Homo sapiens: one gene and its partners. The protein of the gene in region 1 purifies or fractionates together with the protein of each later gene. This does not show direct contact. Each region holds a gene or a part of one and is shown in the gene's direction. Other genes may lie near its edges. The genes, in order: KDM5B, GTF2A1, PCNX1, PRDM13, BMP2K, CACNA1H and NR4A3.

Region 1 (3,500 bases):
TCAGTGAGACTCCCAAACTGCTTGGCTTCTGAAAACTTAGAGTACTTACATTATTTTGTATATGGCAGCTTAGGGGTTCTCAGAAATTTGAAAATATAGTAAGATAAATGTGAGAAAACGTGATTAAGTCAAGAAGACTATACTTCAAATCTGAGTTTGAAGTTTAATACAAACCTTTGTTTCAAATTATATCAACTATGTAGGATAACCAGGCTTGTTTTCTGGACCAAAACCTTCTTAAATTTACAATTCATCTGGCTTCTGGTTTTGTCACCTTTAAAATGCAAATTTTTAATTTCCTCCATGATACTGTACTTAGATGTCTGTTTAAGGACAAATGATATTTTTCCATATCACTTTGTGGTATTTGGAGATGAGTAATTTTAAGGGTGTAACTATTAGGCAGAAAAATAGTTGGCTGCTCAGTAAATACTTTTTTGTCTCCCAAATTTTGATAGGAATATATTTATGGCTTTAGTAACTTATTTTCTTGCTTTCAAATGTCTCACATTTGGCCATAGATAGATTCCACAAATTTCTTTTTTTTTTTTTTTTTGAGACGGAATTTTGCTCTTGTTGCCCAGGCCTGGAGTGCAGTGGCTCATCACAACCTCTGCCTCCCGACCTCAGGTGATCCATGCGCCTCGGCCTCCCAAAGTGCTGGGATTACAGGCGTGAGCCACCGTGCCGGGCCTAGATTCCACAGATTTCTTCTTTGTGTCCGGAGAAGGTTTAAATCAAACCCCAGAGGCCACAAGAGACAAAAATTTTTCAGCTTTAACTTCTTGTGGTTACTAGTTTGATTCCTTCATCTTTATAGCCAAGTGTAAAACTGCCCTTAAATGTTTTAATACAGTCACCATTTTTGAGTGAGCCTGTTGGTTCCACTCCTAGAGAAGAGGGAGGAACTTATACACTTCTTTGTATGGTAGAAGTGTTAATGATATGGAGCTCATTTACTCCCTTTCCAGCGTATCATTCTCCCTAATTTGGGGTTTGATCGACTTAGGCCTAACCCTCTCTCTGTTTTCCCTATTTCTTTGGTGTCATGAAATCTTTCCCTACTTGTATCTTTGGCCACTTTAAGCCTTTAACGTTTAGAGAAGAGGCTTATCAGTAGAAACATCCTTGAGCAAAGGAAGAACTTATAACTACTTAAAAAAAAAACCCTTTTATTGAAATATACCATACAATTCACGAATTTATGATGTGTAATTCAGTGGTTTTTGATATTTTCAGAGTTGTACAACCATCACCACAATCAATTGTAGAACATTTTCATCTCCCTCAAAAGAAACCCTGAACTCACTTGTAACTACTTTTTTTTTCCTTTTTTTAAATTATACTTTAAGTTCTAGGGTACATGTGTACAACGTGCAGGTTTGTTACATATGTACACATGTGCCATGTTGGTGTGCTGCACCCATTAACTCATCATTTACATTAGGTATATCTCCTAATGCTTTCCCTCCCCCCTCCCCCGACCCCTAACTACCTTTTAAGACAAATTTAGGACTATAATGCCCAGGAGAAAAACCTGGTAGGAGGTTGGATTAAGTCCTACAGTTCTAGGCCACAAATGTCTACCTTTTTTTTTTGAGATGGAGTTTTGCTGTTGTTGCCCAGGCTGGAGTGCCATGGCGCAACGTCATGTTGCTCACTGCAACATCCGCCTCCCGGGTTCAAGCGATTCTCCTGCCTCAGCCTCCTGAGTAGCTGGGTGGGCATGCACCGCCACGCCCGGCTAACTTTGTATTTTTAGTAGAGACGAGGTTTCACCATGTTGGTTAGGCTGGTCTTGAACTCCTGACCTCAGGTGATCCACCCACCTCGGCCTCCCAAAGTGCTGGGATTACAGACGTGAGCCACCGCACCTAGGCCACAAATGTCTACCTTAAAGCTAAAACAAACTTCATTTGTTGTAGTTATTGAATGGGTGTTTAGCTAAATTTGACTTTGCCAGTGGTAAATTGGGCACATTAGTAGCCACAAACATATCTACCCAGTTGTAATTCTTAGTGAACTAATAAACAAAACGTGTAGACTTTAAGAATGTAATGTGAATGATATTGCAAATATGAGTCAGCTAAAGATTTGAGTCCCCACCCCCACTGGAAAAATTTCCTTCCCTTCCTATGGTTATAGGGTATGGTTTTAAACATGCAATCTAAACTTTTAAAAGAGCGAAATGAGTAGAGAATTACCTTTGAAAAACATTAATAAACATTCTCTATTAAAAGCCAGGGCCTGAAATTTCCTTTTTTTTTTAATCTCACTCTGTCATCCAGGCTGGCATGCAGTGTTGCAATCAAGGCTCCCTGCAGCTTCCACTTCTTGGGCTCAAGTGCTCCTCCCTCCTCAGCCTCTAATAAATTGTAGGGATGCGGTTTCTCAGTATGTTGCCCAGGCTGGTCTTGAACTCCTGGCTTCAAGCAGTTCTCCCGCTTTGGCCTCCCAAAGTGCTGGGATTACAGGCATGGGCCAGTGCACCTGGCCTGAATTATTTTGTTGAGACACTGATAAGAAAAATTAAGAGAAAATTATTAAACCTTAATTTTATTCTTTCTCTGTTTCTAGGGTAATTTTCTTTATGACCTGTTGGCCTAGACTTAGAGTATTAGAGTATTTCAGGTTGATAGATTAGTGAAAAATGTGTTTACTGGTTTACATTTATAAGTGGGTAGAAATCTGCCAGTGGGGGAATTTTCTCTTGGGTAAAAAAATACAGGGCTGGGCATAGTGGCTCGTGCCTGTAATCCCAGCACTTTTGGGAGGCCTAAGTGGGCGGATCGCTTGAGGTCAGGAGTTCAAGACCAGCCTGGCCAACATAGCGAAACCCTGTCTCTACTAAAAATATAAAAATTAGCTGGGCATGGTGGCAGGCGCCTGCAATCCCAGCTACTCGGGAGGCTGAGGCAGGAGAATTGCTTGAACCCAGGAGGCAGAGGTTGCAGTGAGCCGAGATCACTCCATTGCACTCTAGCCTGGGCAACAGGCTCAAAAAAGAAAACAAACACAACAACAACAACAACAAACAACAACAACAAAAAAACAGTGTAAACTATTTGATTAAAAAAAATGAACCCTGTTTAAATGCTGTAATGGGACCTTTTTGTAGACTTTTGTAACCTTTCATTGTTGCCTTAATTGGACCCCATTAAGGTTGGCTGTAGAAAAGGATAAGGGAAAGCCCGTGCCCCTAAAATGAAAGTGCTAATTAGGTTTCTGGTGTTCAGGGTTTTTTGAAGCCTATGCGTGTACTTCTTTCCAAATGCCATCTATAGGTTTGAAAAACTACTAACCTAGGAGTACCTTGCTTTCATCCTTGGACAGTCCTCTCAGTGTTGAGATTGTTGTGCAATTTTTTTTTCTCTAAGAGAATTTGGTATTTTCTAATATACCTGTTATAGTACAGATCATTGGCAGCCTCAAAAAAAAAAAAAGATGGAATGAAGGTTGGGAACTGGAGGGCTACACATTCTCAAATTTAAGTTTGGGTC
Region 2 (3,500 bases), on another chromosome or scaffold:
TGGCCAGGCGTTGTGGCTCACGCCTGTAATCCCAGCACTTTGGGAGGCGGGCGGATCATGAGGTCGTGAGTTCGAGACCAGCCTGACCAACATGGCAAAACCCCGTCTCTGCTAAAAATAACAAAATTAGCCGGGCATGGTGGCGCGCACCTGTAGTCCCAGCTACTCAGGAGGCTGAGGTGGGAGAATTGCTTGAACCCAGGAGGCAGGGGTTGCAGTGAGCCGAGATCACACCATTGCACTCCAGCCTGGGTGACAGAACGAGACTCCATCTATAAAAAAAAAAAAAAAAGGTAGACCCAGGTTTTCAGATTCTCAGTCCAGTGTTCTTCATGTGAAGGCAGTGTATAACTTTTGTCCTGGTAGCTGGCATATACATAGTATGTGCTCAATAAATGAAGCAGTTATCTTTAGAAAATCCTTATTTTCTAGAAATTTGATAAAATAGAAATTTAATGGGTCACTACACTAGTTAAACTAATTGCTTTTGTACTTTGGTAGTTTTTAACTGTGTATGAAATATGGCCATTCTGGTGAATCTTAAGCATTTGTTTCTATTTCTGTGTACCATACTTGATCCTCTTAACTAGTTACTGTTATGTGGTTTTCTTTTGCTTTAGGTGCTGGCTCCTCTTCCTGGAGGGATTTCACCACAGACAGGTGTCATCATCCAGCCTCAGCAAATCTTATTTACAGGAAATAAGACTCAAGTTATACCTACGACAGTGGCAGCACCTACACCAGCCCAAGCACAGATAACTGCAACTGGCCAGCAGCAACCGCAGGCCCAGCCTGCTCAAACACAAGCTCCATTGGTCTTACAAGTTGATGGAACTGGGGATACATCATCTGAAGAAGATGAAGATGAAGAAGAAGACTATGATGATGATGAGGAGGAAGACAAAGAGAAAGATGGAGCTGAAGATGGGCAGGTGGAAGAAGTAAGTTTCTAGTAACATACTTAAAATAATCTACTTGATTATTTCCTTTTTTAGTTGGTACAACACTGATAAATTATATCCTGTTTTTTTCAGAGACTGTTAGGTGCTGTACAACATAAGATTTTAAAGATAAAGTTAGATTGTTTTAACTTTAGTAAGGTTTTTATATTCTGGCTATATTTATCTTCATAAAATATAACTTTCATATAGCTGGTAATAAAAAATGTATAACAAATTAAATTGTATTAATATGTGTAGTAAAGAGTACAGGTAATTCTAACTCTGGCTTACGCATTTATAATGTGGCTTAAACATAAGACATTGGTAGATAAATAGATGTGGTTAATCTTTTGCTTCAGTAATTTAAAAAGCGTGGCAACATTTGGGGAGAGAGCAAACTCAAGAACCAAATGTCACAAATTTATTAAATATTTAAAACCTTTTGGTCCATGTTCTATACCACTTCCTTAAAAACCTATGTACCCTTAATGTCTGTGTTCTTCTAGAAGCATATAAATATGCCTTTGTTTTCCTCACTATTTCAGCTTAGTTACTAGGCTCCAAAAACTATTTGTCCCACCACAATTTTCACTGTTAATTGCCTTCGTTAGCCTAAAATGCAGTCTTTTTGTTTCTTAGTACAAAGTTCTTCTAAATTATCTAAGTAATTTTTTTTCTGAAGAAAACATAGTTTATTATTGAATATTGAATAGACACAAATGAATAGAAATGTTTCAAGATAAAAATCATCCTGGTGCCCACCATCTAGTTAAAATAAAATTCCATTATTTAAAGTGCCTTAGATGCCTCTCCCTAATCCCATCATTCCTAGGCCATCAAAGTACCTTTGCTCATACATTTGTGTTGATTATTAATTGCTTTTATATTTTACCATATATATTTATATTCCTAAATAGCATATTGTTTAGTTTTGCATGTTTACAACGTAAATGAAGTAATTACGTATTCTTCTGCAAGTTGGTTTTTTCCCCTTAAAATGATATTCCTGAGGTTTATCCAAGTTGTTGCATATAGCTATAATTATTTTCATTGCTGAATATACCATAATTTTATTTGTCAATTTTTCTAATCCAGTGGACATAAGGATTGTTTCTTGTTGTTTACTGTTACAAACAGTTATAAAATATTGTAGTGTATGTCTTCTGGGGACACAAATGCAAGAGGTTCTCTAAATTTTATACCGAACATTGAACTTCTGGCTCCTAAGTCATGCACATCTGCAACTTTATAATAAAATGCCAAATCACTTCTGCCATTCAATACATAATTGTGCAGATGTCCATACCCCCTTATCAATACCTGATAGTGTCAGGCTTCCTGATTTTTGCTGGTCTGGTAGGTAGAAAATAGTATTATTTCATTTTGGTTTTAGTTTGCATTTCCTCACTTAGGAGTTTTAGCCTCTTTTTGTATATTTATTTGATATTTGTGTTTTGTATAGAAGTGCTTATTGAGGTCTCTTGCCCGTTTCCTCCCCCTAAATTCTTCATAGTTTCAGTGCTTCTTGAAGTAACATGTTTTTATTACCTTTTCCAGTTTATTGGTAGGATGGAAATATGTAGCGCTTTTAATATTCATCCTTGAACCAGCCACCGTCCTAATGTCTTTTGTTAGTCCTCATAATGTATCTGTAGATTCTTTTGTATCTTCTGTGTAGACTTTCACATCTTATATGAAGAACGGCAGTTTTTTGTGGCTCATTGGCTAAGCCTTCGGGAACAGTATTGATTAGAAGTGGTGATAGCAGGCACTCTTCTCTTCTTCTTAAACTGAAAAGTAATCTTTTCCATGCTTCACTGTTAAGTTTAATGTTTGTTGTGGGTTTTCTTTTTTTTTAATGGATATCTTCATCAGGTTAAGTAAATTCCCTTCTTTGCATTGCTTTGTTTTTTAAACTGTAAGTGAATGTTGCATTTAATTAAACACCTTTTCTGCAATGATTTGTATAATTTCTCACGTAATGTTATTTATAATGGATTTCATTAATTGATTTTCTATTTGTAAACCAATCTTGTACTCCTGGGATAGCACAACTTGATCATTTTATATTTCTCTTTTTATAAATTGCTGAATTCATTTTGTTGAGGACTTTTTTGTAGATATTTATGATTGATAGATACTGTGTGATTTTCTGTTCTCATACTCTTCTTACAAGGTTTTCAGTTATGGTAGCTTTGTTAAATGAATTTGGGGACATGTTTCCTGTATTTTGAACTCTTTTTTTTTTTTCAAAGATTGTATTTAATTCTTCTGTTGATATTTGTTAAAACATGACACTACAGATACCTGGGTCTAGTAATCTCATGCCCTTCAAGTATTTTGTTTCTGTTTGAGACCGTTTTGATAAGTTATATTTTTCTAGGACTCTCTATATATTTATCTAAATTTTCAAGTTGATTAACATGAAGTTAATCATGATATTGTCTTTTTGATGCCAGAATCCTTTGTCATCTTCATTCCTAATATAATTATTGTGCCATCTTTTTTTTTCCCTGTTCAGTCTTACCAGGGATGTGTTGATTTTATTAATGTTTTCAA
Region 3 (3,500 bases), on another chromosome or scaffold:
ATTTTGATTTTTTAATTTATTGAAACTTGCTTTATGGCCAGGCATGTGGTCGATCATAGGGTATGTTCTGTGTGCAGATAAAAATAATGTATAGTCTGTGGTTGATGGGTGGAGTATTCTGTAGGTGTCTATTAGATCCAATTGGCCAAGTGTCAAACTTAAGTCCAGAGTTTCTTTGTTAGTTTTTTGCCTCAGTGATCTAACACTGTCAGTGGGGTATTGAAGTCCCGTACTATTACTATGTGGCTAAGTCTTTTTGTAGGCCAGTAAAACCTTGTTTTATGAATCTGGGTGCTCCAATGTTGGGTGCATATATATGTAGGATAGTTATGTCTTCTTGTTAAATTGAACTTTCTATCATTAGGTAATGACCTTTTGTTTCCATTTTTACTGTTGTTAAAGTCTATTTTATCTGATATAGGAATAGTGACCCCTGCTCTTTTTGTTTGTTTGCATGATAAATCTTTCTCCAGCCCTTTACTTTGCACCTATGAGTGTCATTGCATGTGAGATGGGTCTCTTGAAGAGACCAGACAAATGGATCTTTTTTTTTTAATCTACCTTGCAACTCTGTGTCTTTTAAGTGGGGTGTTTAGACCATTTACATTCAAGGTTAATATTGATATGTGAGGTTTTGGTCCTATTAGGAAGTTGTTGGTCCTATCATGAAGGTCCTATCATGTATCATGAATGGTTGCTTCGTAGTTCTACTGTATGGTTGCTTTATAGGGTCTGTGGGCTGTGTTCTTAAGTGTGTTTTTGTGGTAGCAGGTATTATTTTTTTGTTTCCATGTTTAGAACTCCCTTAAGGATCTCTTATAAGGCTGGTTAAGTGGTAACAAACTTCCTTAGCACTTGCTTGTCTGGAAAAGATTTTATTTCTCTTTCACTTATGAAGCTTAGTTTGGCAGGATATGAAATTCTTGGTTGGAATTTCTTTAAGAATGCTGAAAACAGGCCCCAATCCCTTCTGGCTTATAAAGTTTCTTCTGAGAAGTTTACTATTAACCTGATGGGGTTCCCTTTTTATGTGATCTGACCTTTTTCTCTAGCTGCCTTTAAGAATTTTTCTTTAGTGTTGACCTTGGACACCCTGGTGACTGTATGCCTGGTGATGTTCATTTTGTATAGTATCTCACAGCTGTTCTCAGATTTCTTGTATCTGGATGTCCACCTTTCTAGCAAGATTAGGGAAATGCTCTTGAGTTATTCCCTCAAATATGTTTTTCAGGTTGTTTACTTTTCCACCTCCTCTCTCAGGAATGTCATTAATTGGTAAGTTTGGTTGCTTTACATAATCCCGTATTCCTCAAAGACTCTCTTCATTTCTTTTATTCTTTTTTCTTTATTTTGTCTGACTGAGTTATTCCAGAATACCAGTCTTCGAGGTCCAAAATCTTCTGCCTGGCATTTACTAACTTCCTACACTTAGGAAGCAATTAAGCCTCTTTAAGCTTCAGTTTTTAAACATGGAAAATGCAGGTATTATCAACTCAACCTACTTGACAAGATTGTTGTAAAATTCCAGTGAAATAATGTAGAACATTTTACATTATGAAGCATTATTTATGTATACAGTATTATCTCACATATCTCAACCCCCCAGCTAACAGGCTCTATCCTTAAGGATATTCCTTCTTACTCTCCCTCTTCTCCTTTCACATAGCACAAATTCTGGTCAGTTGACTTGAGTGCAAATGGATTACTTTACTGGGATACAGAAATTTGTCAGCCTCCCAACTATAAATATGAAAGCAGCCTATCATATTTACATTTCTTTAATATACCATTTCAAAACTGCAGATTTGTGTTACAGTTATTTCAGTATATGTCCTGTCCCTGTTAATGTGTAGGTTTGTAATAGGGAGATACATTTCATATCTTCTTTGTTTTATCCATGCTGCCTGCCAGACAGTCTTGTACATGGTAGATACTGAATAACTATCAAATGAATAAGTAGTTATTAAGACCAAGATACTTTTCAGAGAAAACTTTACCAACTTCTCTAGGACTAGGACCCCAAATCTGTGCTCAGAGCTGCTAGCTTTGAGCTGTATCTTAACTAGGTGAGAGGCAGGATAAAGTGATATATTAGAACCCATTTTAGAGATACGACTTTATGTGAAAAGTATCTAGTTAAGAAGAAACACAATATAGAGACCTTTTATGTAGTTTTAGCCTTCCTTACCTAATAGTGACGTAATCCTTCAACAGAAAAAAAAACATGAATAAAGATATGAAAAACCAACTTGAAAGAGAAAAACAAAACACATAAAAACCAGAAATGATGTTTATTCATCTAGAACTTAGAGGAGAGGGTTGGATTGAGGAATTTACAAAAATAGTATAGCAGTAATGAGCTACTTCCTAACCCAGTTATGACTGAGAATCTATAATTTATCTCTAATAATATTAACATGTGTTGAAATATTCATAATAAACCAGTTTTTAAGAACTTTCACTTAGTAACTGTAGAAGTTATCAGTTCTTTTATTTTCCTTTAAAAATTTATATATTATTTTTGTATTTAGGATCATTTTACTTCTCCAGATGAATATGATGACCCTACTGTGCTCTATGAAGCCATAGTATCTCATGAGAAGAACCTCGTAATAGCCCATGAAGGGGACCCTGCATGGCGGAGTGCAGTACTTGCCAACTCTCCCTCCTTGCTTGCTCTGCGGCATGTCATGGATGATGGCACCAATGAATATAAAATCATCATGCTCAACAGACGCTACCTGAGCTTCAGGGTCATTAAAGTAAGTGTTTGAGGTATTTATTTGGTCCAAAACATAGAAGTTGAATAACTTGATCTAAAATTTTTTTTTTTTGAGACAGAGTCTCACTTTGGGCCCAGGCTGGAATACAGTGGCATGATCATGGGCTTACTGCAGGCTCTCGACCTCCCTTTGCTCCACCTCAGCCTATCGAGAAGCTGGGACTACAGACATGCACCACCATGTCCGGCTAATTTTTGTGTTTTTTGTAGAGACAGGGTTTTGCAATGTTGCCCAGGCTGGTCTCACACTCCTGGCCTCAAGTGATCCACCTGACTCAGCCTCCCAAAGCTGTACAATTACAGGTGTGAGCCACCACGCCCAGCCTTGATGTAAACTTTTAAAAAGTAATTGAAAGTTTTTTCACAGAAAAAAAATGTGATGACCATATTACATTTGTCTTTCTTGTTTATGAGCACTTAATTTTACTTATTTTTTTTTAGTACTTTATTCTGTCCTCTGAAAGTTTCTCATGTGCCATAAAGCCTTAAAATTTTTGGTTATTTCAGTTTTGACAGTCTTTTATCCATTAAATGGCAGGTCTTATATATTTTATATATGCAATTTGGGCAGCATCTCTTTTTAAAAAGTCAGCACCATATTGCTAATATAATATGATTCTTAGGTTGCAAAATGATAGCATACCATGTACTTAATAAAGATCAGAAGTTAAATAGTTCATTCTAACTTTTGCTTGTTTGTTTTTTTAAACATCTCAGT
Region 4 (4,113 bases), on another chromosome or scaffold:
CTGAGGGCCCTCTGCCCTTTTGTGCAGTGGTTGGGCCTCTGGCGCTAGGCTTGGAAATACACCACCACTCAGGCCTCTCTTGGAAGAACTGCATCGGGCTCCGGTGCTGGCTGCATAGGATTTGGGGAGCTGTGCTCAGAACTAGCAGCACGCGGCAGGTGCCGGCAGAAATCACAAATATCTGATGAACTTGATTACTTGGCTACTATTTATGAAAATAAATGTTCTCACGCCAATTGGAGGCTTCCCTAAAAGAAAACGGGTAGCTCTCCGGTTTAACTCTGAAGTACAACGTCTTGTTAGTTCACAAAGTAGGTGTAAGAAAGAGTTGTCCCAAACGCCCACCTCGCCCCTCTTCTCTACAACCTTTAACAGATTGCGGTGATTTTCGTTTTTGTTTACTGTTTTTTTTTTAATAGAAAAGTCCAGGTTGCTGGTTTTAGGGAAGTTAGTCCAAGGACATCTTCTAGGGGACGTGATCAATAACCCACTGGTAGAACTTCTTCCTCTTCAACCCTGGGCTGCGGACCGGGGCGCAGGATCCCCATTCGAAACTGTTGGTTCTGGGGCTGTTTCCCATTCTCCAGAGAAAGTGCAGGCCCGGGGTGTGCCCGAGAAAAGTGATGAGCAGTTGACCTCCCCTTCTCAACTTGGTCTGGAGGCTTCATCATATTTTCGGACGAAATGGGACAGAAGTGAGAATTAAAGCGGTTCTGAATAGACGACTGGCCTGAACCCAATCCCCTGAAATGGTAATATGGTTGTTATTTAAAAAGTGTAGGTATTTTCTGGTGTTTTCCCATCAAGTACCTGCCTAATTTCTGTATGGCACACGCCAGAAATCAATAGTAGTTAACAAGTCCTCCAAACAGTCTCCATCTCTTTGTTTAATCTCCTTTACAATAAAGCCAAGGGGAGAGAATTAAAAATCTTTGAAGTAGATCAAGGCTCAAAGGAATCAGCCAAGTAGACTTAAAGTAGTCACTTATTTCCCAAAACTGGTTTGTCGGGGAACAATAAAAGGAAGTAAAATTTATGGAGAAATTATACAGTGGATTTGTCACTTAAAATATCGTAACTGTCTGGAGGACAATACCCCATGCTGAGGATTAATGGTCCCGCCGGACCTTTGATTCACCAGTGCCTTTTCTTCGCCCTTGACAAATTGGATTTTTAGGAATGGGAAGGTCGCCTGGACCATTGTGTGCTAGCCATTCAGCGGCCTCGATTATGCAGGGGGCTGAGGGAACCACTCCATGTGACCCTCTCGGGTGGGACTCTGCAGCTGCTTCGCAGCGCAACTCTCTCACCAAACTCCGCGCCCTTGCGCTAGCGGTGCCAAAAGGCTCCCGCCCCGATTGAAAAGGCGCAGTGCATGCCCGCCCGCGTCACTCCGCGGGCGGAGGACGCACGTCGGGGCGCGGCTCTCTGGCTAGCGCGCAGCTCCAGCTCTGTCACTCGCGCCCTTCCAAGGACCTGGAGCACCCGAGCGCCTGCCTGGTGGCGGCGGCAACAATGCACGGAGCCGCCAGAGCGCCAGCCACCAGCGTGAGTGCCGACTGCTGCATCCCGGCCGGCTTGCGCCTCGGACCGGTGCCTGGTACCTTCAAGCTGGGCAAGTACCTGTCAGACCGCAGGGAGCCCGGGCCTAAGAAAAAGGTATTGACCATTCAGACCTCTGCCCACTGCCATTCGCCTCTCAGTGCCCTGACCCGGGAAAGGGGTACGAGAGAAAGTGGAGGAAGGGAGTGATTGAGTCGTTACCTGCTAATTCTGCCGGGTGGAAGGGGACTCCTATTATTCTGAGCAAGTAGCCTCTTTAACTGTGAGAGCTGGACGGGGTCGGGCTGAGAGGAGAGGATGTGGCCGAGAGGCGACAGCCCTGGGTGGGGTGCACTGAGCGCTGTAGGTGCCGGGACCATTCGCAGCTTGTGTTTTCCCCTGCGCTCTCGGGTCTCCTCAGTCAGAAGCCAGAAGCCCACCCCCGCACGCTGTCCGCAGCTCTCTCTGCAAAAGCACCCTCTTTCTGGGGGCTCAGGGCATCGAGACCCTTTCTTCCCTTCTGCCCTTCAATATGTTAATTTGAGGCCTAATTTCGCCTTAAAGTAATTTTTTTTCCTGAAAAAAAAAATCTTTGGGAGGCTCTCAGTTCCTAGAACCTCCTCAGATATTTTTTTTTCCCTTGCCGATGTCGGCTTGTGGGTATGCGGCATATGGAGAGAGGATGAGCAAGGTACTGGCTCTGACGCGGGCTCCAAGGGCGAGGCGCGCCCATTCGCGCGGGGCACAGGGTCAGAGCGTCTGCAGCGGGGCTCTGAGAGTCCAGAGGCCCAACCGGGAGGCGCCAGGGCCAAACCACTAGCTTTGACTCCCACACTCCACACACCGTCGCGACCCCTGACCAGAGAGACTTATAGCACTCGCCCGCTTTGGGGGCGTCCCAGGAGCCAAAGGTCGGCAAACAGCGACCGGGAAATGAAGGCAGAAGTCTGGGGTAGAAGAAAGGACTTTGGCTTCCTTGGCTTTAGCTTGCCTTGCTTGGAGCTTTCTAGTAAAAAGCTCCGGTGTCCAGCCAGCGGGACTTGCACCTCGCTCCTCCTGCAATCACGCCCCCCACTACAGTCTAAAGCGGGGTTTGGTGCCCACCGCGCATTCCTCTTTAAACGCGTTTTAATTGCTTTTAAATGGCCTGCCAGCTGCGGGCAAGCTTTTCCCCGCTTGGGCTTTGTTCCGAGACTTTAGCTGCAGGGCTCACAGGCAACTAGGTGCGATGCACACAGAATACAGGAGGCATGAGATAATTTTTTTGTTTGTTTGTCGGGGGTACGCTCTGGGCCCTGGGACTGACCTAGAAATGTCTCTACCGTGGTGTTACGGCTGCTCTCAGAACTGCAAATGGGAGAGCTGGGGTAGGGGACAACTTGGTACAAGATGTGCCTAAGCACTCAGGGAGGATGCTCTCAACACCCCTCTCCCCTCCCCGTGTCGTCAAGGTGGGGCGCAGGGAAGTGGGAGTACTGTTAGCATAGGTAGACTTTCCTCTTTCTCCCTCCCCGAAGCAAGGTCCTAAGGAATTCTCCTCCTCCCAGTAGCCCATAGTGGTCTGGCCAAACCAAAAACAACCACTTTCCTGTGTTGGGTTGGGGTGGAGGATAAACTTTCTGTTTGGGTTGTGGGCCTGGCCAAGGTGCGGGGGAGAACGACCACTGCTTGTGTTGCAGGTGCGCATGGTGAGAGGGGAGCTGGTGGACGAGTCGGGGGGCTCCCCTCTGGAGTGGATAGGGTTAATCCGGGCAGCCAGAAACTCCCAGGAACAGACTCTGGAAGCTATTGCAGACTTACCCGGAGGACAGGTACTGCGGGCTTCTCTCCACACCCCCCCACTCCCCACCGCCAATTCAGTCTACCTAACCGTCCCTGCGGTGGCCAAAAATATTAAGAGCAAAGTACTTTAGCTAGACGTCTCATTTAAACGTCTCGACAACCCTTTAAGGTAGTTACTATTGTTTTTCCGTTTGAAGGATGACGGAAGTGAGGTTCAGAGAGCTCCAGTAGCTTCTCCAGGGTCACACAGCATCAGAATCCGGATTTGAACCTTTCTTCTCAGTTGCTTTTTGACCGATTACCCAGGAAATGACATTGAACTGTTCTATTCCTTGCGTCCCAGATCTTCTACCGAGCATTGCGAGACGTCCAGCCAGGGGAGGAGCTGACAGTGTGGTATTCTAACTCCTTGGCTCAGTGGTTCGACATCCCCACCACAGCGACTCCGACTCACGACGAGAAAGGTACCCATTCCAAAAGCGTGGATGGGCAAAAGTCCAGCCCTCCTCCTCCTGTCTTGAAGCGAGTCCCTAGACATAGCTCGATCTATGTAAAATGGAATTCACATTCCCTGTATTTCAAGGCAAAGAGGAGAGAGGTCGCCACTACCTCCTTAAAATCAACCATAAACGATAACAGTGATAGTAGCAATCTGGCTCACAATGGCAGGGGAAAAAGTAGGCTCTATGAACTTAATGGGGCCATCCTTTTTCTGTTGCATATTCAAACAGACCATTATTTACTCAATTAAAATAAAAAAAATTAGGCGCGGTAGCTCACACCTGTAAT
Region 5 (3,500 bases), on another chromosome or scaffold:
TTGACTAGAAACCATCAAAATATCATTCTACCATATTTAGTTAAAGAAAAAGAAGAAATACATTACTTAGAGCCAAAAATAAAAACAGTGGGTGAATATATGAAATTTCACAGTATACTAAAATAATGTAAATGAGTTATGATTCTGTGCACCATCTACACAGTTTTTAATGCTGTAAATACATGTTGTTAGTGCTTATTCTAAATATTATACCCCCATCTCCCACCTACTTGAAGAACAGCTATTTTTATGTTAATAATACAGATCTCAGTAAATATGGGGATTATTAGGATTTAGGGTATATTGAATTATAAAGCAACATATTTAGGCTTATACTTTTGGGAAATTAACTTTAGCAGTGAAATAATCCTGATTAAATTTCATAGTAAATCAAATGTGTATTATTTAATCTAACAACTAGTGGGAATCTGGCCCCAGACACAAATAGTGGGAAGATCTGAAATTTTTTTTTTTAAATTATAGGAATATGTTTAGGCAAAGAAATGGAGTATGAAGGTTTATGGCATTCTTAGCTAGAGGTCACATTCTAAAGTGCTGTGCATTGTATAGTTATAACCAACTTTATAACTTAAAATACTTATTCTGACAGTCTTTTATGTCTATGGAATAGGACTGAAAGCCTTAGAATATACTGAAATACTTTTTATTTTTGTGTAATTCACCTTTCTTTCCCAGCTCTTCTGTAGTTTCATGATGAATAGATGATTAAGTAGATCACTGCTACTGCAGAAACTTACCTTGGATTGTGGTAACTTGCAGCCTGGAACCTAACTTTTCCTCAGCAGGAGGTACTGGAGAGATAAAAGGATTAATAGTTTGTCTTAGTATGCTTTCAGAGAGCCTCATTACTGCTCTTTACTTTTTATAAGTTTATAACAGCAGTAAAAGTGTAGAGTGAAATATTTAAACAATGTCAGTGTGGGTTGCAAGAATATGGGAGAAAACAGGAATTTGGATAAATATTTTTGATTGTTATTTTAGTTTTATGTAGGGGGGCAAAATAAGTAAAACCAGTCTATCTACACCAACAGAAAATTTCCCCAGTTGCCCGTACTATTTGCAGATGTAACCTGAAAGCACAAAGGTGGTATAGATGATTGTGTCTTTTCTTGCTCTTTTTGAAAGTGTGTTTCCATTTCTTATACTGTGTTCTCAAATATAGCTGTCTAAAAATCAAAAATAGAATTTCCAGGATCTAAAATGTACCCTTATGCTGTGTGGATATACATTTGTTGGTCTACTTACTTCTGGTCAGTTCTGAAGTGGATCTCAGCTCCTCTTGAATTAGCCATAGACTTGCTTCTCCCTACACTTCTCCCTCATTTATATTCACCTGCAACCACTGGGCCCAGAAAAGTTACTAGAAGCTTATTGGGTATGATGGATAAAATAATTGAATTTGGCCATTCCCAGGACATGATGATGGTAGAGTGCTTATTATGTGTTCAGGCACCGTTCTAAGTCCTTTCTTCACAATAGCTCTATGATATAAAATGTGTTATCCCATTTTGTGTATAAAGAAAGTGGAATAGTGGTGACCTTGTCAGGATTATTATTGGGTTAGCTTTAGTAGCTGTGTTAATTACCCATGAGGAGGGAATCATAGTATATAAATAAAGTGAAATTGATACTAAAAAAGGAGGGTTTCCTTTTTACTCCTTGAAGGAAAAAGTGCATGAATCATGGTTGTATCTAAAATGCCGAAAAACTAGAAACAACCTAAATATTCTATTGCTAAATAGTGAACAGTTATATATGGAATATTTTATCATATTTCTATCAGAATAAATAATAGACTGTTGATACCTGAAAAGATGCATTAAAAATAGTAAGTTAAAAACCCACAGATTTATACCCACACTGACAATTATAAATGTGTATTTCTATTAATACAACTTTGATAAATGGACAAAGGGCCAACAGAATGAGAAGTATAAAGTGACAGATGTCTTCTGAAAAGTAATGGTAGCCAGTTGAATAATGAAAACAGTAAATTTTAAGAAGACTAGGGAGTACAATGTAATAATTTTAAAAAGAAGGCGAATTTAAATTCACTTCCAAGTGACACTCTCCAAGATGAATTATCTGTCCTACGTTAAATGTTCCAGAAGACCTTCAGGAACACAACTAGAAATGGAAAATTTCAAGATAAGTTGTATAGCAGCATTTCCCCAAAGTACTTTTGCATAGTTGGTTTTAAAGGTTAACAGGCATTACATGTAAATAAAAGGGTAGTGAAGACAATTTGGGAAATCCTAGGGTTCATAAAATTAGATTCTTTTGTGTAGGACTCATTAGCACCTTTAATGAGCATACTCCAGGTGAGTAGGAGTGGAGGCAGAATGCAGAGTGCACCATTTCATAGACTTGTTTGCTTGAGACCACAGAACTGTTTGTCTTGGTTCTTGTTAGGGAAATAGCCTCTGCAGAATACACTTTGGGCAACATTGGAATGTTACTTGGAGGTGTCCGTGAGCAGGCGTGAGGTGTGAATGTTGTGGCTGTGGGTGGGTATGCAGCTCGAGGAGTAATACGTTAAACGTTTCACAGTCAGGGATGATGGGAAATCTTCTGGAACCGTACATATTTTATTTTCATTTTTCCCTTCTTCCCATATTTTGCTTTTGAATAAAAATTCATAAAAATAAATTCACTAAAATTAACTTTGTTTTTAATATCATAAATACGCTGTGTAGGGAAGAAGTCAAACTTGAGAATCTGCATTTGATTTGCTTTTAATCTGGAAGGATAACAAATACAGCATGTAGCTCTTGGCTGGTTTTAAGGAACTGACAGAAGATTATATTTGCAATTAAGTATAACCTGGTGGTATTCTTCACATACTTGTCTCCCACACATTCTTTAGCACCACTACTCATGTCAACATTGCCAACAAACTATACAAGATGACCAGATCCAGTGGCCATTTTATGTCCTTAGTTTACTGGACCTCTTTGCACCATCCAGCTCAGTTGTCTGTTACCTCCCTCAAACATTCTTCTCTCTCCATTTCTGTGACATTGCACTCAGCTGTTTTCTTCCTCCTCTCTGGCTGTTACTTTGTAGTTTGTTTTGTATGTTCATCTTCCTCTGCTGACTTCTGAATGTTTTATACTGAGGGCTCAGTTTTGGATCTTCTTTTCTTCTATGTTTTCTTCCGAGGTATGCCCTTTAGTCTTGTGGCTCTCTCTGCATACCAACTGCATGGTGATAACTCCCAAATCTATTTTCTTCAGCCAAAAACTAACCATTGGTTTCAAATCACAGATACCTAACTGCTGTACACTTAAATGTTGTCTCACACATATGTCAAGCTTAATGTCTCCAAACAAAATTTTTAGTACTCCTCTTCACTTTCCAACTTACTCATTTTTTAAAAAATTATGCTCATTAAAATTTGTGTGTGGGTACATAGTAGGTATATACATTTATGGGGTACATGAGATATGTTGATACAGGTATACAGTGCATAATAATCA
Region 6 (3,500 bases), on another chromosome or scaffold:
GCCTCCAACTGGCGTCACAACTGCTCCTTAGGGAGGGGAGGCCTGGGGGCCGGGCTTAGCAGGAAGTCGATGAGAGAGACGGGGCTGGAAGGGCAGGTGAGGGCCGCACAGGGACAGAGGCTGGGAGTGGGGAGCACTGGTGTCCCACACACTCAGGCCCAGAGGGCGTGGCTGCTGCCAGCCCCTGAAGGAAGCTCTTGGACTCGTGGGCAACACGCTCCAAGCACCCGAACTTCATTCTTGCCGGGGCCAGCTGCGGGCACCCTCCCTGGCCTGGTGGAACGCTCAGGGGTGGTTCTGCATACTCCCCTCACCTCCCCCAAGGGCTGAGAGCCGAGGGCGATGCGGCCCCACCAGGCCGGGCTCCTGGAGCTGCAGAAGAGACGTCCCGTTCCGGGGTCAGGACAGGAGGAATGCGGGGGAGGGGCCAGCCTGTCAAACACTCCGGGGATGGATCCACAGCAGCTCTGCTGGCTGAGTCCAAGCCACGGTCGCACAGTCAAGGTCAGGCGAGGAACGCGTTACCTTTGTTTATGCAGATGTCGGCCAGGCCGTCCGTCCAGCCGCCTGTGCCGAGCCCGCTGTGGGAAGGGCGGGGACTGTCCCTGCCTGTCCTCGTCAGTGGGCATTCCCCTCCCTGGCACGGAAGAGGAGTCTCTCCTCAGTGGCTCATGTTGGCGTAACTTGGAACAACTCTAAGTCACGCGGGCCCAGGTTGAATTTCCAGGGTGGAGATTAAGGAGCGACCACTCACCCTGGGCAGATACAAGGGGTGAAGTCAGCCGGTCGCGCCCTGAGCAGTGATGGACGGCCGCCTCGGTCAGAGATGGTGGGGGCGGGGCTCGGGGAAGGAGCTCTGCTGGCTCTCAGCCCCTGCCCGGCTCAGGAGAGCTGGCAGCAGGTCTGGGCACCGTCCCCAGAGCACTGTGCCCGCCGAGGATGACAGATGGGGACGGAGTAGCAGCTTGCCGTGGTGCAGGGGGTGTGCCGCCACGTGGCCGCTGGTGTCCCTGGCCTCCGTGCACACTCCTCGCGGGGCGGAGGTGGGCCCGGGCTGACGGGAGAAGCGGGCCGTTGGCGGGGCCGTGAGAGCCCCCGGGTTTGATGAGCCGGACGGTTGATGAATGTGCTCCACGAGGCCTCCTTTGTCCTCTTGCTGCCGCCCGGTCGCTTGCCGGGAGCGGGAGCTGTGGGCAGAGAGATCCTTGGGTGGGTGTGGCCGCCGCCTGCGTTTGGAGGCCCCGTGCAGCGTCAACCCGGGACGCCAGAGCACCCCATCCTCGGGTGCGCGGCCGGCGAGGACCGAGGCATCAGCCCAGTGCGGCCCCCCCCCAGCCTCGGTGCAGCCCTGGGCTCTTTGCCCAAGTTGAGAGCAGGGCTGGCAGGGAGAGGATCCGGAGGCCCCCACGCTGCCTCGGGGTGAAGAGGCTCCTCTGACCCCCAAGGTGTGTAGACCTGACACAGTTGCACCCCCAGCCCTGCTTTGATGTCTGCAGAACTGGCTCCTGCAGAAAAGGCCTTGAGCGAGACCTCAGCGTCTGCTGGCCCTGCTGGACTCGTCTGACCCTGGGCTGCTGGTGGTGTGGGTGCTTCTGCCGTTGGCGACTGATGGGAGCGAAGCTGTTCCTTTGTGGATGGACCGTTAGGTGACACGGGATGTTGGCATTAATGAACGCTGTCAACTGAGCCGGTGGCAGAGGTGGGGGCAAGCCCTCGCCTCTGTTGACCGCCAGGCCGCCCTGTGTTCTCACCCCTTCTCCCCTCCCCAGCTGTCTGCACCTGGGCAGAGCCCCCTGGCCGGAGGTGGTTGTCTCTGGGCCCCTCACTGGCCTGAGGACTGAGGTGGGGATACCTTGAGGCCTTTTTTTGGGCAAGGTGGTCTTTAGTAGCCCCAGATGTTAAAGACTCAGCCTCAACTGGGTGGAGCCTCCTGGGATTCTGGGGTCTCCATGGCCACAGGAGGGGGGCTAGCGACCCCTGCCAGCCTGGGCAGTGCCTCCACGTGGGCCTCAGTTTCCCTGTCACACCACTTTGGTCTGTCATCTCGGTCACTGATGGAGTGAGGCTCCCAGCAGGCGGGTGAGAGAAGGGGCCAGATGCGGTCCCGGGAGATAGGCTGTCAGCCCCGTCCAGTCGGTGGGTGGCCAGTGCGGCGGCTGATGGGGGACAGACCGCTGGCCAGGCCCCACGCCAGCCCTGTCCCCATCTGTGAGCAGCACCCGGACCTCCTGGGTCCCCTTGCCGCAGCCTGCCTGTGGGGTGGGTCCGTGGGGTGGGCCTGGTCGGACGCGTTAATGGAGCTGCAGGCAAGGCTCGGGGCAGATCTTTCTAGAAGGCAGCAGAGCCATCACGGTGGGTCAGGCTGTGTCCCGTGAAGTCTGAAGTGGACTGGCAGAGGTGGGCACTGAGGTCCCTGCTCCGGACCCTGTCGGGGTCGTGTCACCTCCTGGGCGTTGGTTTTCTCATCTGTGAAATGGGCCTGCTGCCCTCCTGGCCTCTGGGTGTGTGGCGGGGACTCCTCGTCCCCACTCAGTCCCATGGGTGATGCAGGACATGGGATCCTGTCAGCCCCATGACCCCTCGCCCTGGGCCTCTGGCCTCCAGAGCCCCAAGAGGCCATTGCTGTCTGAGGCCCCTACCTGTGGCACTCTGTTACAGCTGCCTCCTGCCAGGGTGCCCCCACCTGCCCTCACAGCTGCGAGCAGGGGTGCAGGTGCCTGGGGGAGGCCCCCAGCACCTGCTTGGCCCTTTCCCCACCTCACCTGTGGGCCCCCCCGGAGGGAGAAAAATGGCCCATGAGCAGGAGGTGCTTGACGCAGTAACAGGAGTCAGCCCCTTTCAGGATGAATCGCGATTGGTCGCCCACTGTTGTCAGGCTCCTCCGATGAGGAGCAGCCCCCAGAGAGAGAGGACGCTTAGCCGTGAAGTGGGTCATTCGGAGCCTCGGTTGGCACGGGGGCTGGTGCTGCAGTTGTGTCTCTGTGCCCTGGTTAGAAGCTGCCCCGCACGGCCAGCTCCTGCGGACACCTGGAGTGGGGGGGGGGGGTCCATCCTAGGAGGAGCCGAGCGTCTTGGGACCCTGTGAAGGGGTCTGGGGGCCGCACTTGGCTCTGGTGAGCAGGGAACAAGATGGATGAGACCCGGGCCCCACTGACGCTGGGAGGACAGTGTCCAAGCTGGGGGACCATCCGCCAGGGCTGTGGCGTGAAGGCCGAGGGAGTATGAGCAGGGGGTGGGATAGTCCCAGGTGGCTGGAAACAGCTGTGGTCAGGTGGGCGAGCAGAGGTCAGTGGCCCCAGGTCCCTGGAACGCCTCTTCTCACGGCCACTCCACGGGTGCCTGGCCCTGCGGCCACGCGGAGCTATCCTTGGCTCCAGCCTCAAAGGCTGTGGGGGCACAGTGGCCGGTGCTCTGCCTGCCTGGACCTTGGGCTCGTCTGACTCTGTGTTTGCTGTGTGTCCCTCACTCGTCACCCAGCCTCTCTGTTCTGGGCAGGTGAG
Region 7 (3,500 bases), on another chromosome or scaffold:
CGCTGGGTGGCCAGGAGCCTCCAAGCCGCCCACCCTCGAAGACACCGCCCTCTGGGTGCAGGGGACCTGCCTCCGCTCGTCCCATCAGCCGCTAACGCCGTCCGCTTCGTCCCCTTGCTTCCAGCGCCAGCCTTCTCATCGCTGTGCCCTTTTGTTTGCTTGACCCCTGGCCCTCGAAACTCGCGGCTAATAGAAGCGAAGCTCCATTAGCATTTAGAATGAAAAGCGCAGACTTTCTTAATTCCTCGGGGCATTCATGCATTCGTTCCGGACCTTGTGCATTTCCTATGCAACGTGTAAAATTTGTATTTGAGGGGTGGGGGCGGGCGGAGCTGGAAAATGGCTTTTTTCCGCTGGTGAACACTCACTGACCCCCCGTATTCGGGCGGAGCTCGTTCCTCAAGTGTTCTGCTTTCTTTGGTTTTCCTGACTTCGTAAGCTCGGAATCAATTGTGGGGGCAGAGAGATCAATTTCTGGGCAATAACAGGCTGCGCGTTTTTTTTTTAGCCTCGGTTTTGGTGCCACAAAACGGTGGTAGGCGCAGTGGGTTCCAACAACCTTTCCTCGGCTTCCCCGAGGCCGTGTGATGCTTCTTGCCCAGGGGGACTCCTGTACCATTAATCACCCTTAATTTTACGATAATTCTTTGTAATTAATGTAACATTTCTAGAGGTTGCCAACCAATTCCCCCAGTCCCCAATGCGCCCAGCCCGGGCCGTAGTGACCCATCCTGGTCTCACTGTGACCTATGTCCTCTTTCACCTTGCCTGTAGAGCCCACTGCGGAAGAGGGCAGCCCGGCAAGCCCGGGCCCTGAGCCTGGACCCTTAGCGGTGCCGGGCAGCACTGCCGGCGCTTCGCCTCGCCGGACGTCCGCTCCTCCTACACTCTCAGCCTCCGCTGGAGAGACCCCCAGCCCCACCATTCAGCGCGCAAGATACCCTCCAGGTAGGTCCGAAGGCAAGACCCTTTTCTCCTCCCTGGCTGAGGGAAGTGGGTGGGGGAACCACACACTCGGCGGGCAGCGTGGTCGACCTGCCCAGTGCCAGGACAGTGACTGCTGGCCGCGAATTTCACAACACAGGTGGCTTCCTCACAGGAAGCTCCTCTGTATACCACACCCTGTTGCTACTGAGTGGAGCAGCCAAATTAAATTAAGCTTGCATTGCTCAAAATTAATTTTCCTAAGAGAAATACAAATACACCAATAGATTAGGGTATTTTATACATTTTTAATTTCATTTTTGCTCTTCTTTTATAGCCAGTGTGCACATGTAAGAGTTATGGAATCACTTAGAGCAATACTGAGCATTTTCATTTATATAAAACCCAAATCATTTGGGTGCAGAAGTTTGGATGATTGAAGCTCAGAGGGAAGGAGAAAAGCATTTGAGATGAAAACCAAAGAGTAAATTTGAGTTTGGCAAAAGAACAGATTGCACTTTTGGTTTGTACCACCTCTTTACAAATTTGTTAAAGGAATACTAGGTGCCAAGCCTGTGTGGGCACCATAGATAATGCAGATAAATAGAATACAATCCCAGCAAGCTCATCTTCTAGCTAGAAACCTCAGAAAGACACAAATAAGAGCAGTAAAAAGGGATTGGCCGGAAAGAATGACAGAAAAGAGTAATGGAGAAATCCTAGAGGTGCTGAAGGGAGAAGGAGAATAGATCAAAGATCAGGCAGTGTTCTTTCTTTTAAATGATTAGCCTTTCATTTCATCCCAACAACTGGACAGCAAGATAAGTAACTGGACTTCAAACTAGTGAGTGTATTTTTAAGGCCCTGCTTGTTAAAGAAAGGCTTGAACTGGCCTCTCCTCATCACTGCTTCTTCCAACAGGCCCTCATCACCTTTTTTCAAGTCAAGATTTCATCCCATACATGCATGACTCAATCAGATTTGGAAATGTGGGTAAGAGAAAGATGTCAAAGGAAATGTGAAGTATTCACTTCTCTATTAGTCACACCTTTTACACCATAGACTCCAAAGAGGCGTTAAGCACCTGGTTTTCCTTTGGCTCAGAAAAACCAACCACCAAAAACCGCCGTTTTTTACCATTTATATTTAGCCATAAAGAAAGAAAAATAATTAGATAAATCATCCACTACATCCAATAATTCTCAGCGCCTTCTCACTCAGTTCAGCCTCTCTGAACAATAGTAAGCACCCTGGATACCAGCCACTTTGGGGGCAACATAGTCAAACTGGCAGAGAAATCAAGTCTATTGAGAAACTGCTTTTTTTCATGGGTACTAATTCTAGTGTCATAAGGAAATACCTATACTAACTTGCCTATTATGATAGTTATAAACTGTTATCACAAAACAGTCACTGATATGTTTTATTAGTTAGAATTGGGATATATATATGTGTGTGTGTGTGTGTGTGTGTGTGTGTGTGTATATATATATATATGGGTGGGTGTTTTGTTGCAGCTGCTGATCTTTTTCTTTGCAGATGGTACAAACTCTCCCGAGTCAATTTCCTGGGCCTATGTCCCCACCTAGCTGACTGAAGTTATCAACAGGGGTCCAGTTTGTGCAGGCTGCTAGCCCTATTGGAAGAGTGGGGATGAGGTGGGAGAAAGCAACCACAACGTGTGTGGGCAACCTCAATTGGCACTCATAAAATGTTAGAATGTCAACTCTCTCCCTTGGCCACTAAATCTCTCACAGGGTAGTTTTTCTTGCCTAACTCAGGTTTACAAATCAATGTGTATGCCTTGGGGGACCAATGGCCTCTTTCCTCCCAAATAAACCACTGGCTTTCTCTTTGTCCCCCTAGGTTATAGCTGAGGAGCCCACTCCAATTAGTTTATAGGATTCAAAGCCTCTTTTTAAAAACATCTCTGAGCTTATGAGGAAAGACTTCAAGTTTCCCAAATCTAGTGGAGGACAGGGCAAGGGAGGAAAGATAGGTACAGGAGTCCACAGGAGGCCAGGTTTTGGCACCCCTTTGTCAGGAATTCAGCTTCCTTACTAGGGATGAAGAAAATAAGTGTGGGGCTTTGTGTCTATGCTACCAGAAGGAGGAGAGGATGACACTTCCTCTCTGTTTCCCAGATTAGAGAACAGTGAACCCAATGCTGCCTGTTGGCTAGAAAACAAGTGTTAACTTGCTTCTGAGAGACCCTTTTCTCTGTCCCTGCAGATATGCCCTGCGTCCAAGCCCAATATAGCCCTTCCCCTCCAGGTTCCAGTTATGCGGCGCAGACATACAGCTCGGAATACACCACGGAGATCATGAACCCCGACTACACCAAGCTGACCATGGACCTTGGCAGCACTGAGATCACGGCTACAGCCACCACGTCCCTGCCCAGCATCAGTACCTTCGTGGAGGGCTACTCGAGCAACTACGAACTCAAGCCTTCCTGCGTGTACCAAATGCAGCGGCCCTTGATCAAAGTGGAGGAGGGGCGGGCGCCCAGCTACCATCACCATCACCACCACCACCACCACCACCACCACCATCACCAGCAGCAGCATCAGCAG

Evidence for each region.
Region 2: the proteins of KDM5B (region 1) and GTF2A1 purify together in Homo sapiens (affinity purification with mass spectrometry, with the first as the bait; one study listed by BioGRID). This does not show direct contact.
Region 3: the proteins of KDM5B (region 1) and PCNX1 purify together in Homo sapiens (affinity purification with mass spectrometry, with the first as the bait; one study listed by BioGRID). This does not show direct contact.
Region 4: the proteins of KDM5B (region 1) and PRDM13 purify together in Homo sapiens (affinity purification with mass spectrometry, with the first as the bait; one study listed by BioGRID). This does not show direct contact.
Region 5: the proteins of KDM5B (region 1) and BMP2K purify together in Homo sapiens (affinity purification with mass spectrometry, with the first as the bait; one study listed by BioGRID). This does not show direct contact.
Region 6: the proteins of KDM5B (region 1) and CACNA1H purify together in Homo sapiens (affinity purification with mass spectrometry, with the first as the bait; one study listed by BioGRID). This does not show direct contact.
Region 7: the proteins of KDM5B (region 1) and NR4A3 purify together in Homo sapiens (affinity purification with mass spectrometry, with the first as the bait; one study listed by BioGRID). This does not show direct contact.

Annotation. Positions count from the first base shown.
Region 1 is NC_000001.11:202,801,922-202,805,421, reverse strand, and holds part of KDM5B (lysine-specific demethylase 5B), read left to right. Parts: intron 1-3,500. UniProt on the Homo sapiens protein: Histone demethylase that demethylates 'Lys-4' of histone H3, thereby playing a central role in histone code. Does not demethylate histone H3 'Lys-9' or H3 'Lys-27'. Demethylates trimethylated, dimethylated and monomethylated H3 'Lys-4'.
Region 2 is NC_000014.9:81,189,960-81,193,459, reverse strand, and holds part of GTF2A1 (transcription initiation factor IIA subunit 1), read left to right. Parts: intron 1-620; coding exon 621-941; intron 942-3,500. UniProt on the Homo sapiens protein: TFIIA is a component of the transcription machinery of RNA polymerase II and plays an important role in transcriptional activation. TFIIA in a complex with TBP mediates transcriptional activity.
Region 3 is NC_000014.9:71,099,459-71,102,958, forward strand, and holds part of PCNX1 (pecanex-like protein 1), read left to right. Parts: intron 1-2,531; coding exon 2,532-2,762; intron 2,763-3,500.
Region 4 is NC_000006.12:99,605,520-99,609,632, forward strand, and holds the start of PRDM13 (PR domain zinc finger protein 13), read left to right. Parts: upstream 1-1,313; 5' UTR 1,314-1,515; coding exon 1,516-1,659; intron 1,660-3,221; coding exon 3,222-3,353; intron 3,354-3,667; coding exon 3,668-3,788; intron 3,789-4,113. UniProt on the Homo sapiens protein: May be involved in transcriptional regulation. Is required for the differentiation of KISS1-expressing neurons in the arcuate (Arc) nucleus of the hypothalamus.
Region 5 is NC_000004.12:78,905,350-78,908,849, forward strand, and holds part of BMP2K (BMP-2-inducible protein kinase), read left to right. Parts: intron 1-758; exon of another isoform or gene 759-812; intron 813-3,500. UniProt on the Homo sapiens protein: May be involved in osteoblast differentiation.
Region 6 is NC_000016.10:1,159,606-1,163,105, forward strand, and holds part of CACNA1H (voltage-dependent T-type calcium channel subunit alpha-1H), read left to right. Parts: intron 1-3,500.
Region 7 is NC_000009.12:99,824,885-99,828,384, forward strand, and holds part of NR4A3 (nuclear receptor subfamily 4 group A member 3), read left to right. Parts: intron 1-774; 5' UTR 775-948; intron 949-1,845; exon of another isoform or gene 1,846-1,886; coding exon of another isoform or gene 1,887-1,917; intron 1,918-2,463; exon of another isoform or gene 2,464-2,582; intron 2,583-3,156; coding exon of another isoform or gene 3,157-3,158; coding exon 3,159-3,500. UniProt on the Homo sapiens protein: Transcriptional activator that binds to regulatory elements in promoter regions in a cell- and response element (target)-specific manner.